2 linked regions of the Homo sapiens genome follow. The protein of the gene in region 2 interacts with the protein of the main gene of each other region in a biochemical or structural test. Each region holds a gene or a part of one and is shown on either strand. Other genes may lie near its edges.

Region 1 (7,025 bases), on a different chromosome or scaffold from region 2:
TGTGAAGAAGTACATGTTTGTTTCCCCTTCTGCCATGACTGTAAGTTTCCTGAGACCTCCCCAGGCATGCTGAACTGTGAGTCAACTAAACCTCTTTTCTTTTATAAATTACCCAGTCCCTGTGTTGTTAGCAGGGTGAGAATGAACTCATACAGGGGCCATTCTGAGAACAGGGGAAATATTCATCAATTATGGTAGATTGTAAATGTGACCAGAATCCCTTAATCCTCCGTGTATACATATCCTCTGTAAATGTGACTTTATGAATCCTTTCACTAAGAGGTGGAGTCTGTTCTGGCCTTCTGACTTGCTTCAACCAGTAAAATGTAGTAAAAGTGATGCTGTGCCCAGTTCTAAGGCCTGGCTGCAAGAGGCTTTGCACACTTCTACTTGCTGTTACTGTGAAAAAATAGCTTGCCTACTGGAGAATGAGAGACCACACGAACAGAACCCAAGTCTGCTCAGCTGCCCCAGGGATATGAGTACCCGAAAGCTGCAAACCCAACCTAAAGCTGTACACTCAACCGGCAGCTGACCACTGACATGTGAGGGAGCCCAGCCAGCCCAGCCTACATCACCAACCTACAGAATAATAAGTTAAATGAATGACTGTTACTTTAAGCCACCAAGTTTTGGGGTGGTTTATTATGTAGCCTTAGAGTGGTAACAGATAACTATTAAGGAATAATATACTAAGGAATCTGATCATGTCACTACATAATCATTTTACTTGGCTGCTGCATTTTCCTCCTACAATACCCTAGGAATAAAAACGTATTAACTTCTTGGTCTCATCTACAATTTTTAACATAGGGTAGGTGGTTTTATGAAACCAGTGTTTGAGGGATTTCTTGAAGGGTGGTTTCCATGACATCACTCTGAAAGTCTTAATACGATTAAAAGCTAATGTTGACAGAGCACTATGTGCCAAGCCCCCAAATCTAAGAGCTTTAGATGTGTCAACTCCCTTTTAATCCTCACAACAACTCTATGGTAAGGACTATTGTTACTTTCCATTTTATAAAGGAGGAAACTGAGGCTCAGCAAATAAATTCTCAAGATCTCACAGCGTAAGTGGCAGAGAGAGCTAGAATTAGCACCCAGGCCCTTTGATTCCAAAGACGGTGCCCTTAACCACTGTGCATCCTGCCTGTCTCCTTGAAGTAAGCACAGTAAAATGTGTGTGCGTGCATGCCTGGAGAATGAGGTCCAGTGTTTAGAAGCAGCCACCTTACCCGAGCCAGACGCAGAAGCGTAGTCATCGTCATCAATAGGATACACTCCTGAAGCTTCTTCAATGGAGCTGTTGTCAAGGTACATGTCTTTATCAGATGTCAGCTCTGCTCTCTGAGAAAGGAAAGACAAGGGAGTCAGGATGTTGAGAGATTAAGAAACACACTTGTATATCTGATTGTTCAGGTACATACTGCAGTGACTACCCCTCCCACTCCCACAGTAGTCTGAATCCACATCTCTGGCCACAGTCTTCCTCAGGCACCCTGACAACTTAACAGCAATTTGAGAGGTGAGCACGGACTAATAACCTGCAAGGGAAGCCTACACAGCTTAAACCAGTAGAATGAAAACATTTCGGAGATCTAAACTCCTATCTTGGGCTTATTTTGTTGCATTCCACTAAACTTACCTGACTTTCAGCCATCCCAATGCTAGTTATAAGCCATCTTGGGCATTCTCTTTGTCACTCCCTTACTGGAAAGGGAACAAAACACTTAGGACTTTCTTGGGGATGTATGCAAAGGTATTACGGCTTAGCTTAGGCTAAATAATCACCCAGGGATCCATCAAATCCTACCAGTGCTTGCAGGCCTGGCAATACTCAGAACTTTACCGCTACAGATGAGAGATCCCCAGTCACCTGGGTCCTCAGGCCATGCAGGCCTTTCTACCCCAGCCCAGACCTGTGCTGAGGCCAGCCACAGTGCCCGGAGAGGAGCAGCGCCCGTGAGGCTCACCTGACAGGGAGAAAGCCCACTGCACGCCTGCTTCTAGGGCTCATTGGCTTAGCAAAGCCTTAATGACAAATACAGATAAACCCACACGAGCACATTCTTTTTCTATTACTGGCAACTGGTAATAGCAAATCACACGCTTAATATGGAGAGGGATCAGTCACTAAGTATACCAGTTCCACAGCTTCTTAACTCTTCAGTAAGAGTTTAGTATTAAAATTCAACCTAATCCTGCCAAAAGAAGAACTTGCATGAACTGGAGACAGAGTAGAGGTATAAGACTTTAAAAAATGGTTTTAGTAAATTGATATTTTACTACCATTATCTCGCAAAAGCCCAGGAAAAAAATAATAAAGCAGACAGGCAGCTTTTAAACAACGCTTGTTTGGAAACAGGCAACACTCATTATTGCTCTATTTTTAAAAATCATATAGAATGTTTGCTCTTAACAGAAATTATAAAATAATGTTTCCCTTACTACACTGGCTTTCATTAGATTTAATCTTAAAATAAAATTTTCTCTTCCAGCAGTCGCTGTGATTGGAACCTTCCTAAGAGGACAGGTCCAACCCTCTGTAACAGTACCACTTTATTTTCTCAGGTTTCAGCAGCTGGCTAGCAAGGCTAAAGCACTTTAAACCTGAGCCCACATTCTCCACCAGGCCTCAGTGCCAACTGAAAGCAAAGCATGGGAATCTATTTTGTTTGAGCTATCACACTGGTGGATTCTGAGAACTGAAACCTTAGGGACTGGTGTTCCAGTGGCCTGGACCACCCTGAGCCAAGAGTGTGCTGCAACTTTTCTAGTAGAATGGTCAGAGCTTAACTCTGCAATCTGACGCCACCCTGTTTCACTGGTTTCCAAGGCTATCACCATTCCAGATTGTAATTCCCAAAGCTTGTGAACTGTGTCAGGAGCCCTGTGTTCTACAGCTCTATCATCAACTGCCTCCTCTTAGGCTCTCAGCTCCTTTAAAGGCAAGGCTTCCCTCCCCCAGTCACAGTGCCTGGCATATAGTAGATGCTCAGTAAACACCGCTTGGGTTGAACCACCATTCGTGCTCCCATGAAAAAGCCATTCTCCGTCCTGCTTGTCTTAAACTTTGTCCCATTTACTTCCCCTGGAGGACCTCCTGGTTTCTTCTCTCAAATCCTGGCTACTATGAAACAGGCTGTGACTTCTCCACTCCTTATACACCTCCTAATTATAAAGTACTATTTTAGGATTTTGTAGCATATGAACAGTTTAAGACATAAACCCTCACTGTTACTTTTCATTGTTTCATGTGCATTTTTCTTGCCCCTCAGCAGAGTACAACTCATTGAAGGCATGTTTTGAATGACCTGTGTTCTCTGTCCCTCTCAAAATGCATGGCCACAAAATAAATATTTGACTGAGATTACTTAAACCAAATTGGCCTTGGACTGAGGTTTCAGAGTTACATGTCACAAGACCTCCAGGATCCTCGTAGTTTAAAATCTCTCCATTTTAAGCCTAGGAGACCATCTGCCCCAAACCTCCTATAGCTTGCATTGCATCTATTTAAGTAACCTACAGTCTTAAAAGTAAGCAAAATATTCCCTTTCCATGTTAGAATCTTGTTTCCCTTTTCTTAACATTGAATGACTTTCATTTTCCTCTTGGCTCTGTCAATGAAGTTTGATGTGGCAAGGGTAATACTGAGATACTTAATCCCTATGTGTAAATTGAATTTCAATTCATTCGATGACCCAGTTGTCTGGACTAACACATCTGTCATGCTACCAGGCAGATGGGCCAAAAATGCCTCCCAGAGAATTCTAGCCACCTCACCGTTCAACCACACTGGCAGTCTGACAAGCCAACTGACTTCCTGGGACAGCCGTCAGGCCTGTATTTCAACAAGACTTGGGGTGGAAGTCAGGGTGTGTCTAGAGAAGCTGGCTTACCCTCAGCCACTCAGTTACTTGGGGTCTACAGGGCTCCCGGGTGGTCTCTGGGCTGACCAGATGTTTAATGTGTTTAAAGGCAGCCAAAAGTGTGTTTCTCTGTGATCCAGGGTGGTGAAAATAATTTTGAAATCAAAGTTCTCTCCCACTCTGATTTCAGGAGCACAAAGAACATAGGAGAAATTACCAATATCTTTCCATGAAGTCCAATTTAACATAAAGCAGGGCCCTTTTCACTCTGTAGCAGATAATGAATACCTCTATTGCCTTCCCCTTTAAAAAATAAAAAATAAAAAAAAACCCCTGCGCTCATGACAAATTCCTTTTATGAAGACTCCACACTCTGTTCTGAAAGGTTTCTGGAATGAACATGCCTAGGACGGGAAATGATTTATGCACCAATATTCCCTTGGGACAAGGAGACAAGCATCTCCTCAAGGCCATGAAAAGGGGTGAATTCGAAACTACCGATTTTACACCTGGCGAAATGTAGTCTGCTTGACTGAGGAGAAAACCTCGGGACATACTCTGCACACACTCCCTTACTCAATGGGACCGAGACGCTGGACGAAAGCAACTGGAAGGAAACGTGCAGAAGCACAAGTCCAGAGCTGCAGCCTGGCTGTAGGGTGTCATAACGAGGCTGTTTAATTTGGGACTGACCATCGCTGTGAGGCAGTGCCAATACTGTTGGCTAACAGGGTCCAGAGTACAAGCTGGGAGAAAAACAAAGCTGGTCTTTCAGACCTTTCCCTTTTGGCTGATGCAAGATGTGAATACAGGAGAGCAAAGGAAGGCTGTGGAAAGCAACAAGGTACGACCAAGAGGAAAATGTGCGGCAGACAGATAGAGGGTTCTGCGTAATGCCACATTCAGCCAGGGAAACTGAAGCACTACACTGCCTCCATAGATGAAATTCCCAGAGGAGAATGCGCATCTGATTCAGTTGTGTAAACCCACAATGCCTAGAAGGAAGGCAAGATACATACTTGTCTCCTATCTCCACCCCTTTGCCTCTGGCCCCCCGGCTCTGGCTAACTCATCATGTTGGGCCTGGACCTGGACTAAGGCCTCCTGACCTTGTCACTGCCCACGTCCGTGTCTTTGAAGCCATTCGATGCAGAGGGACTGTTCTTGAACTCAAACATCATCGTATCACTCTCCTGCCTTTATTGGCTCCCTGCCACATAGAGGATGACATAAAAACTCCTTAGTTGGGCCTAGCACAGTGGCTCACGCCTGTAATCCCAGCACTTTGGGAGGCCAAGGCGGGCGGATCACCTGAGGTCAGGAGTTTGAGACCAGCCTGGCCAACATGGTGAAACTCCTTTACCAAAAATTACAAAAATTAGGCGGGTGTGGTGGCAGGTGCCTGTAATCCCAGCTACTCGCAAGGCTGAGGCAGGAGAATCACTTGAACCTGGGAGGCAGAGGCTGCAGTGAGCCAAGACTGCGCCACTGTACTCCAGCCTGGGAGACAGAGCAAGGAGACTCTGTCTCAAAAAACAAACAACAAACAAACAAACAAACAAACAAACAAAACAAAAGTCCTTAGCCTGGAAAAAAGTTCTTTACCAAGTGGCCTCAGCTGCAGTTCTAGTCTCAGCTGCTGCTGCTGCTTCCTCTACCCAAACCCCAGGCACCAATACAAAAACACCAAGAAGAGATCTGGTGACACTACTTTCCTTCGTATTATACCCCTAAGAGGAAATAAACACCTTTAGGTTGGAAAATTGAGGACAGCGATGGTGATTTAGGCCTTCCACATTTGATGATAAAAATTTAGAGTTTGATAAAATGATTCAGCCCAAACTTATACGGTAGTTGTAATAAAAATGACAAGAACAAGTGTTAATTCAATACACAAAAGATCAAGTGTAGTAGAGTCTTGATGTAGTCAGAAACATCACAAACCTGTCCATTTTCTCAGCGAAGACAATTTGTAGGATAGCAACTGAACAAATCTATTTGTTTGATTTTTCTCATGTAGGTAAAACCTACACTGAACAAATACCATGTTTCAAACTGCCAGTGTGGAAATCTGTTATTTAGAAATTCAAAGCCTTGTTTAAAAAACACAACGCCTTACCTACTAAGCAGAGGTCCTGCACATGCTTTCAACCAGTGCAACCAACACAGTGGTCAAAATAATTAAAGCTCAAATTAGTAAATGTCGAATTTACTTTATGGTTTTAACTCAGGTTAACAACGAAAGCAGAAGGTAGAAAACTTAATTATGGATAACTCAGACTCCCAGACCCAACTTTCAGAAAATTAGCCTTTGAACATAAAAATAAAATATCCATGTGGCCTAATAATACATTTCTGTATCACATCACAGACAACAAACATCTAGATGATGCCTCCTGTTTTACGGTAAAGGCAGTCCAACTCCAATTATGACTCAAATGTATATTAACTTTTATGATGATTACAAAGTGCCAAAAAGGCTATAACTGTAGCTTATCTTTCCATAGGTGACTCAGTAAACTATTTTATTACTAGCAACACACATTGTAAAGGAAATAATAATTAGCTAAAAATTTATGTCACCCACACAGTCACTCAGAGATGATATACCTGTCCTTAAGCTAAACTTGTCAATTCTGGCTTAGGTCTAGCCCAAAGGAACATACAATTTTAGAGCTTGACTGGACACTATAGTCACCAAGATCACTGATTTATTTCACAAATGAAGAAACAGAACACCAGAGTAGCAAAGTAGCTCAAAAGTCCTCTGGTCTAGCTGGTGGCCAAACTGGAGCCCGAAGCTCTTGACACCTAAGTGTGGGCTCTTTCTGCTGCACTGTCATGCCCCACAACATGAGTGACATCAGACCATTCAGCCTCGGGTTCAAAAGGATTAGCTGTGGCTGTTAGGTGTTTATTACGTGCCAGGCATTTTGTGCTTAGCATTTTATTAAGCATTGGCTCATCTAATCATCTCAACAATCTCCAGGGCCTACCCAGGAGATTGTTGCCTGAAATCATACAGCTCCAAAAGTAGGGACTTGGGACCTCAAAATGTATGTCACTGAGCATGTTCAACATGCTGCCTACCTCGTCCCTCCCTTTTCCTGTGATTCACACATAATAATAATAAAGGACTGGGGAAGAACTACAATA
Region 2 (7,419 bases):
ATATTGAAGCCAAAAGAGCTGCAAGACAGGACCCTCCATCAGAAATGCTTATAGAGGGACCCCTAGTGTGGGGTAACCCCCTCCAGGAAACCAAGCCCCAGTACTCAGCAGGATGAATAGAATGGGGAACCTCATGAGGACATACTTTCCTCCCCTGAGGATGGCTAGCCACCAAAGAAGGAAAAATACTTTTGCCTGCAGCTAACCAATGGAAATTACTTAAAACCCTTCACCAAAACTTTCACTTAGACATTGATAGCACCCATCAGATGGCCAAATTATTATTTACTGGACCAGGCCTTTTCAAAACTATCAAGCAGATAGTCAGGGCCTGTGAAGTGTGCCAAAGAAATAACCCCTGCACTGCAGGCCATACCTTTCAATCCCTGTACCTTTAACCTCCTTGTTAAGTTTGTCTCTTCCAGAATCGAAGCTGTAAAACTACAAATGGTTCTTCAAATGGAGCCCCAGATGCAGTCCATGACTAAGATCTACTGCAGACCCCTGGACTGGCCTGCTAGCCTCATGCTCCAATGTTAATGACATTGAAGGCAACTCTCCCGAGGAAATCTCAACTGCACAACCCCTACTACACCCCAGTTCAGCAGGAAGCAGTTAGAGCAATCATTGGCCAACCTCCCCAACAGCACTTGGGTTTTCCTGTTGAGAGGGGGGACTGAGAGCAGGACTAGCTGGATTTCCTAGGCTGACTAAGAATCCCTAAGCCTAGCTGGGAAGGTGACTGCACCCACCTTTAAACACGGGGCTTGCAACTTAGTTCACACCTGACCAATCAAGTAGTAAAGAGAGCTCACTAAAATGCTAATTAGGCAAAAACAGGAGGTAAAGAAATAGCCAATCATCTATCACCTGAGAGCACAGCGTGGGGGACAATGATCAGGATATAAACCCAGGCATTTGAGCCAGCAATGGCTACCCTCTTTGGGTCCCCTCCCTTTGTATGGGAGCTCTGTTTACACTCTATTAAACCTTGCAACTGCAAAATATATATATATATATGAAAAATAATTATAAAATTGGTAATGGAGAAGCATGGAAATAAGTGGGACTGAGGAATAACATAAATGGACTACTATTTATTTATCATTTTATTAATATTATTTTTTAAAATAATATTAATTATTATTATTTATAATTTTATTATATTTATCATTTTATTAATGATATTATTTATTATATCATTTATTATTTATCATTTTATTAATCATTAATATTAATGTATTATTTATCATTTTATTAATATTAATTTGATTGTATTACTTCTTTTTGCTTCATTTCTCTAAAAAATAAAGCTAAAAAAGATGGCAAGATATTATCGCTGTAGATTCTAGATGGTCAACCTATACTTGTTTGTTAAATGTTTTCTGTATGATAAAGATAATTTATTACAAAAAGAAAAGCAACATGACTATGGAATTATTTCTTATTTTTATTTTTATTTGCTACCACAAGAAATGTGAACTCTGATACATTGTGAACAGTTCAGATCTGCAAAATTATCACCCACAAGCTGTTTGAGTATGATTTATGGTAATTAATTGAAAACATTATCTTAATTTTTTCCCAAATGAACATTTTGTATTATAACTAGCTTATTCTAAAAGAAAAATCAATAAAAAGCAATAGCCTTTTTAAAATACCCAAATAGATAACGTTAGAAGAGCAAACATGATATGAACAGGGAACTCTTCCAAGATCAATGTGAAAATTTGAAACCAAATAAATATTAACACAGTTTTCTGATAAAAATTATTGCCTCCAATAACTGCACAGGTCATATGATAGTTACTGTTCATGGCTTACGTATAATTGACCAAATTTCAGTAGCTATGTTATCAGCTTTCCAGTTCTTTGATGTTAATAACTTCCCTCATTGGCCTCAGGGGCTTTGAAGTTTTGTCCCTTTTTCCTGTTTTATAGTTGCTCAGCACCTAATCTTATCCCTTTCCCAATTCTTCTGACAGTGTTAGGATAAGATGAAAGGACCAAAGTGGCATTCTGGACATCTGGTTAATATATCTCAAAGGGGTGCACTTTAGTGATAAATCTCCAGTGAGATACAGTTCAAGGCTATTTTTGACATGGACCCTGCTGAGCCATCTTCCAGGAAACCTCTACATTTTACCATCCTTGAAACAAATATATTAGGCTCCTGCAAAGAGATCAGTTTTCACTTTTATAATTCTAAGAATGACTACTAAGTCTTATCTGCAAATATCTGATTCAGAAGATAATAGGGATAAAAGTACAAATTGGACATCTTTTGGCAAAGGAAGCTCCTTAAAACTCAGCCTTGGTTACATCAAGAATAAGAATTCCTGTGTCATCCCTAAGAAGTAGATTTTTATATAACTCAAAACCAGCTCAAGAAATATAATATTTAAACAAACTTCTCAGTGCTTGGTTAATAAGCATTGTTATGAAGAAACAATGAAAAATAAAACAAAAACAACTCAACTTTAGTGAGTTTAGTGAGTGTCATTGCAAAGAAAATTTCACATTGCACTTAGGGATTTTATAACCTTAAGGCTTATTACAAAGGTCACACTATTTCAATTAAGAACAAAAGTGAGTTTTAATAATAAACTGTCAGCATTTCAAATCTTCTCTCCTAGGTATCTTGAAATATACAACATATTGTTGTTAACTATAGTCACCCTATGTGCTATCAAAAGCTAGAACATATTCCTCCTATCTAGCTGTATGTTTGTACGATGAACTAAACTCTTTTCATCTCCCCTCACCCGTCTCAGCCTCTGGTAACTATTCTACCCTCTGGTTACCTTCTACCCCGTACCTCCATGTGTTTACATATTGTTGTATAAATTTTGTGGAAAAAAATCCTTTTTAACAAAATAATCTGCTGGCTATATTTCTTCTCATATTATTTGAGGAATTGCATTGAATTTTGGGTACTGAATTTTGAGGACGTGAATTAAGGATGAGCTACATCTCATGACCTCGTCACAGACCCCTACTATAAACATCTGCATACAAGTTGGCATATTACAACAATAGCATGAGAGTCAGGGTCTGTAGAAATTCCCAGCCTAACTTTTTCCTGGACTGGCCAAACTGAACCTGAACCAGTGTATGGGCAATGTAGTATGCTTGTCAGAGGCACCAAACTGCTAACTCAAAAATAAACATGACTAAAAGAACTTCTCCCAGTATACCCATATGAAGCTGACCATTTGCCCAGTAAGAATGCAATGAAAAGGGCTTTTAATGTACAGCCAAATGGCAGTCCAGCAAGGAAGCTCATGAGCAACCTACAAGTAGTGAGCATTTTGATGTAATAGAGACTTACATGCAATTCAGAATTATGTTTACAACATCACAAAACAAAAATTTAGAGATAGGCTCTCACTCTGTTGCCTAAGCTGGAGTGCAGTGGGATGATCATAACTTACTGCAGCCTTGAACTCCTGGGTTCAACTGAAGGTCCTCCTACCTCAGCCTGCTGAGTAGCTAGGACCACAAGCACACACCACCGCAACTGGCTTAAATTAAAATATAAATTGTAGAGATAGGGTCTTAATGTGTTGCCCAGGCTGCTCTTGAACTCCTTGCTTCAGGTGATCCTCCCACCTCAGCCTCTCAAAGTGCTGGGATTATAGACCTGAGCCACAGCACCTGGCCAACTGACCTATGATTTTACACAATGGCTGCTCTTCCCTTCTTTAACTATTATTCATTCTTCTTTGATCCTCATTATTTGACTGTAGTCCTTCTTATGTCTTGTTTTCCTTCATTACCTCTTATTCTATCACATTGCCATTGTCATTCTCCACTGGGGAAGCTCTTTCTTGCTGAAGACTGGAAAGACAAGTCCATTCACCTGATTTTCTGTAAGATTGTGGCTCATGTATTGACTTGTCAGACAATTCTGAAGTTTCATCAAAATTAGCTATCATGCTTGCATAATGGCCCTGAACCCTCACTCCTACTCTTAGCTTCAGTACCATCTATGTCCTCAACTGTCCATGATACTTATAATTCCCGTAAATCTTCACTTAACACCTAACATTTATTTAATCTTACTAGGCAAGGTAATAAGAAATACATAGGTTTGCCTCCAGAAGTGGGTTCTTAAGAAACCCACCAGAGGAACTCCTCTTTCAGATGTCCACATTAGAAGATTTCATATCACATTTGGTGCCACAGGCCTTTGACAAGGAGGATGCAGAGGAAAAAGCAAACTTCACCTCTTCCTAGGGAAAGTGTTGGCCTGCCAACAGGAAAGAGGCAACATCTGGGAAAATCCCCAGTCTTTGCCAGGAAGAGTCCATGCCAACCCCACCCCATGACCCCTGTCCTGCCTACTCATTGTCACTCTTCACTCCAATGTCCCTCCCCCAGATCCTCTTATAAAATCCCACTCTTTCCTGACCAGACAAACCATACCATATCCCACCAGAGAGGTAAGTGGGAGCTGAGAGAAGATGAGACCCAGGGAGGAGCTACTGCACATGACACAGGAGAATACATGGGAGGGTCCCTTCCTCAGGGAGCACAGGAACTCTGAGACTCAGCAAGGGTGTCCTGGGAGGGCTCGGGGATGGGAGAGTACACAGATTCACAACTCATTCAGAACTGTAGAAGATGATGGATGTGACCAAGATCACTTTAGTCCTAGGGGACTAGAGAAGGAAAATGACATGAGGCAGTGGGGTATCTGTGTGTTCTCCCACTGACCACGCTTTCTTTAGTGACTCCTGATTGCCTCCTCAAGTCGCAGACACTATGCTGCCTCCCATGGCCCTGCCCAGTGTATCTTGGATGCTGCTTTCCTGCCTCATGCTGCTGTCTCAGGTTCAAGGTGAGATTGCTTTGCCTCTAGCACTGGGTTCCCTATGAATCCTCAGAGCTAACAAGAGGAGGAAGGCTCCTGTGTGTCATGTGAGGTAATGACGTGGTGTCTAATGAACCTGCCTGCAGTTCTTGCATCATCTCTCCTTCCTTCAGGTTAACTTGCAGTGGGAGGCTCCATGGTGGTCCACTAACAGTGGAATGAGATGGCTTCCATTTAGTCAGTGGACTCTAATATACACTGGTGGGAAAGTGGACTCTAATATACACTGGAGGGTCAGTAATGAGATGTGGGGAGGGACAATGATTGGAGGACCCAATGTAGAGACAGCCCAGAGTGAGGAGAGTATTGAATGGTTGAATAAGGGGAAAGGGTAATAAGAGACTGGATGGTGCTCCATTTACTACGGCTATTTTGAGATAAAGAATTTCTGAAAACATAAGGGAAGATGAAGGGGTGTCAGGAATGTGGTCTTCCTCCCCAAGGACATTCCTAGGTATTCCCCAAGGTCATCTCCCACCCCAAGCCCCACTCTTCATTTTACCCTCCCCCCTCTTCTTCCACCTCAGGTGAAGAACCCCAGAGGGAACTGCCCTCTGCACGGATCCGCTGTCCCAAAGGCTCCAAGGCCTATGGCTCCCACTGCTATGCCTTGTTTTTGTCACCAAAATCCTGGACAGATGCAGATGTGAGTGGTTAGATGTGGTGTTGGAGGTGACCGGTCTCAGGGGGAGGAGGGTCTCCATTCAGGAGAGTTCCTTGGGAATGAGGATGAACACGTTTATCTTTCACACAGTCCTCCTCCCACCTACCTTTGCCCTGCCCTCCCTCAGCAGGTCTCAGGCTCCCTCTCATTCTCTTTGTTGCCCTCAAAGCTGGCCTGCCAGAAGCGGCCCTCTGGAAACCTGGTGTCTGTGCTCAGTGGGGCTGAGGGATCCTTCGTGTCCTCCCTGGTGAAGAGCATTGGTAACAGCTACTCATACGTCTGGATTGGGCTCCATGACCCCACACAGGTGCCAGTATATCCTCCCCTCTCTGTTACCTCTCAAGGTGCTATTGTTGCCCAGGCCCACTCCCTGTCCCCTGTGCCTGCCCAGGAAGTACTTCAGGGAGCACTGGAGCTCAGATTCTGGGGAATATTTGGGGGGAAAGGGAAGGCCATGAAGCATCTGAAGATCTGAGTTCTGTGGAGGTCTCTATCTTTCAGATAAAATCAATCTGCCTTCCTCAGGCGTATTACATAATTCTCATATGAGGCTGGGTTAACAATTCTCTGAGCTTCATGGAGTCTTTGCCTACTATTCTGAAGGAACTCTTAATGAAGATAGGATCAATTTTTGTCCCCATACAGAACTGACATTACTTTTGAGGTTCACAAGCTAATCACAAATGCTACATCAATTATTGTTCTGCAAATAATATATTACCTTGAGTTGTTCCAAAGGTCTTATGTTTATTGGCTGGAATTTTCCAATAGCAATGAGGAGTCAAGGAAGAGTTTCCTACTCACCGGCAGCATCTGGAATAGCAGACCAACTTTCCTCATGCTGGGGAGCAAATCAGGTGTTGCAGCTAAGGGGCCATGCAAGAAGAGCTGCAATGGCCATTCCCTTCACCTGGCTACCTCCTCTACTCTACAGGGCACCGAGCCCAATGGAGAAGGTTGGGAGTGGAGTAGCAGTGATGTGATGAATTACTTTGCATGGGAGAGAAATCCCTCCACCATCTCAAGCCCCGGCCACTGTGCGAGCCTGTCGAGAAGCACAGGTAAGAAACAGAGGAGCTGCCTCTTCCCAGTGTTTTCCATCTCATCCCCCATTCCTGGGTCTGACCTTCAGGAAATCTTCCTGAGCTAGAAAATACAATGTTAGTGTGTCTTCTCTTATCTCCTCTCTTCTCCACTTTCTTTGAATCTCTCTCCTGGATTGGGACACTGGTGAAGGTGAGGGAGAGGCTTTAACTTCTAGGCTAAAACCTGGGATGCCCCTTCATTGGATTCACAAGCTTCCTCAGCCCCATTCCATTTATGTCTTCTGTCTCTCCAGCATTTCTGAGGTGGAAAGATTATAACTGTAATGTGAGGTTACCCTATGTCTGCAAGTTCACTGACTAGTGCAGGAGGGAAGTCAGCAGCCTGTGTTTGGTGTGCAACTCATCATGGGCATGAGACCAGTGTGAGGACTCACCCTGGAAGAGAATATTCGCTTAATTCCCCCAACCTGACCACCTCATTCTTATCTTTCTTCTGTTTCTTCCTCCCCGCTGTCATTTCAGTCTCTTCATTTTGTCATACGGCCTAAGGCTTTAAAGAGCAATAAAATTTTTAGTCTGCACTTGTTTGTCTTGTATATGCCAGTGTCATAGCCATACTCTGAGAAGGACAAAGTGTTTGAGTGGAGGAAACTTTATGGGTCTTGCTTCTTCCCTATTCACCCAGGCCTCTAGGGAAAATGATGAAGTGTGCATCCCTACCAGTGTGTTATGATGAGGGTGTGGGTCCTGCTCATGTAGGATTTGTGTTGTGGAGAGATGAGGACATTTCTCTCCCGCGTACTTACTGCCCTCCCATTCCCGTAGCCCAAACC

What was found.
Region 1: the proteins of REG3A (region 2) and SDC2 form a complex in vitro, tested with the Homo sapiens proteins (one study listed by BioGRID).

Annotation. Positions count from the first base shown.
Region 1 is NC_000008.11:96,587,802-96,594,826, reverse strand, and holds part of SDC2 (syndecan-2 precursor), read right to left. Parts: intron 1,348-7,025; coding exon 1,236-1,347; intron 1-1,235. UniProt on the Homo sapiens protein: Cell surface proteoglycan which regulates dendritic arbor morphogenesis.
Region 2 is NC_000002.12:79,156,754-79,164,172, reverse strand, and holds REG3A (regenerating islet-derived protein 3-alpha precursor), read left to right. Parts: upstream 1-4,419; 5' UTR 4,420-4,445; exon of another isoform or gene 4,446-4,733; 5' UTR 4,734-4,767; coding exon 4,768-4,843; intron 4,844-5,403; coding exon 5,404-5,522; intron 5,523-5,709; coding exon 5,710-5,847; intron 5,848-6,474; coding exon 6,475-6,601; intron 6,602-6,879; coding exon 6,880-6,947; 3' UTR 6,948-7,167; downstream 7,168-7,419. UniProt on the Homo sapiens protein: Acts as a hormone in response to different stimuli like anti-inflammatory signals, such as IL17A, or gut microbiome. Secreted by different cell types to activate its receptor EXTL3 and induce cell specific signaling pathways.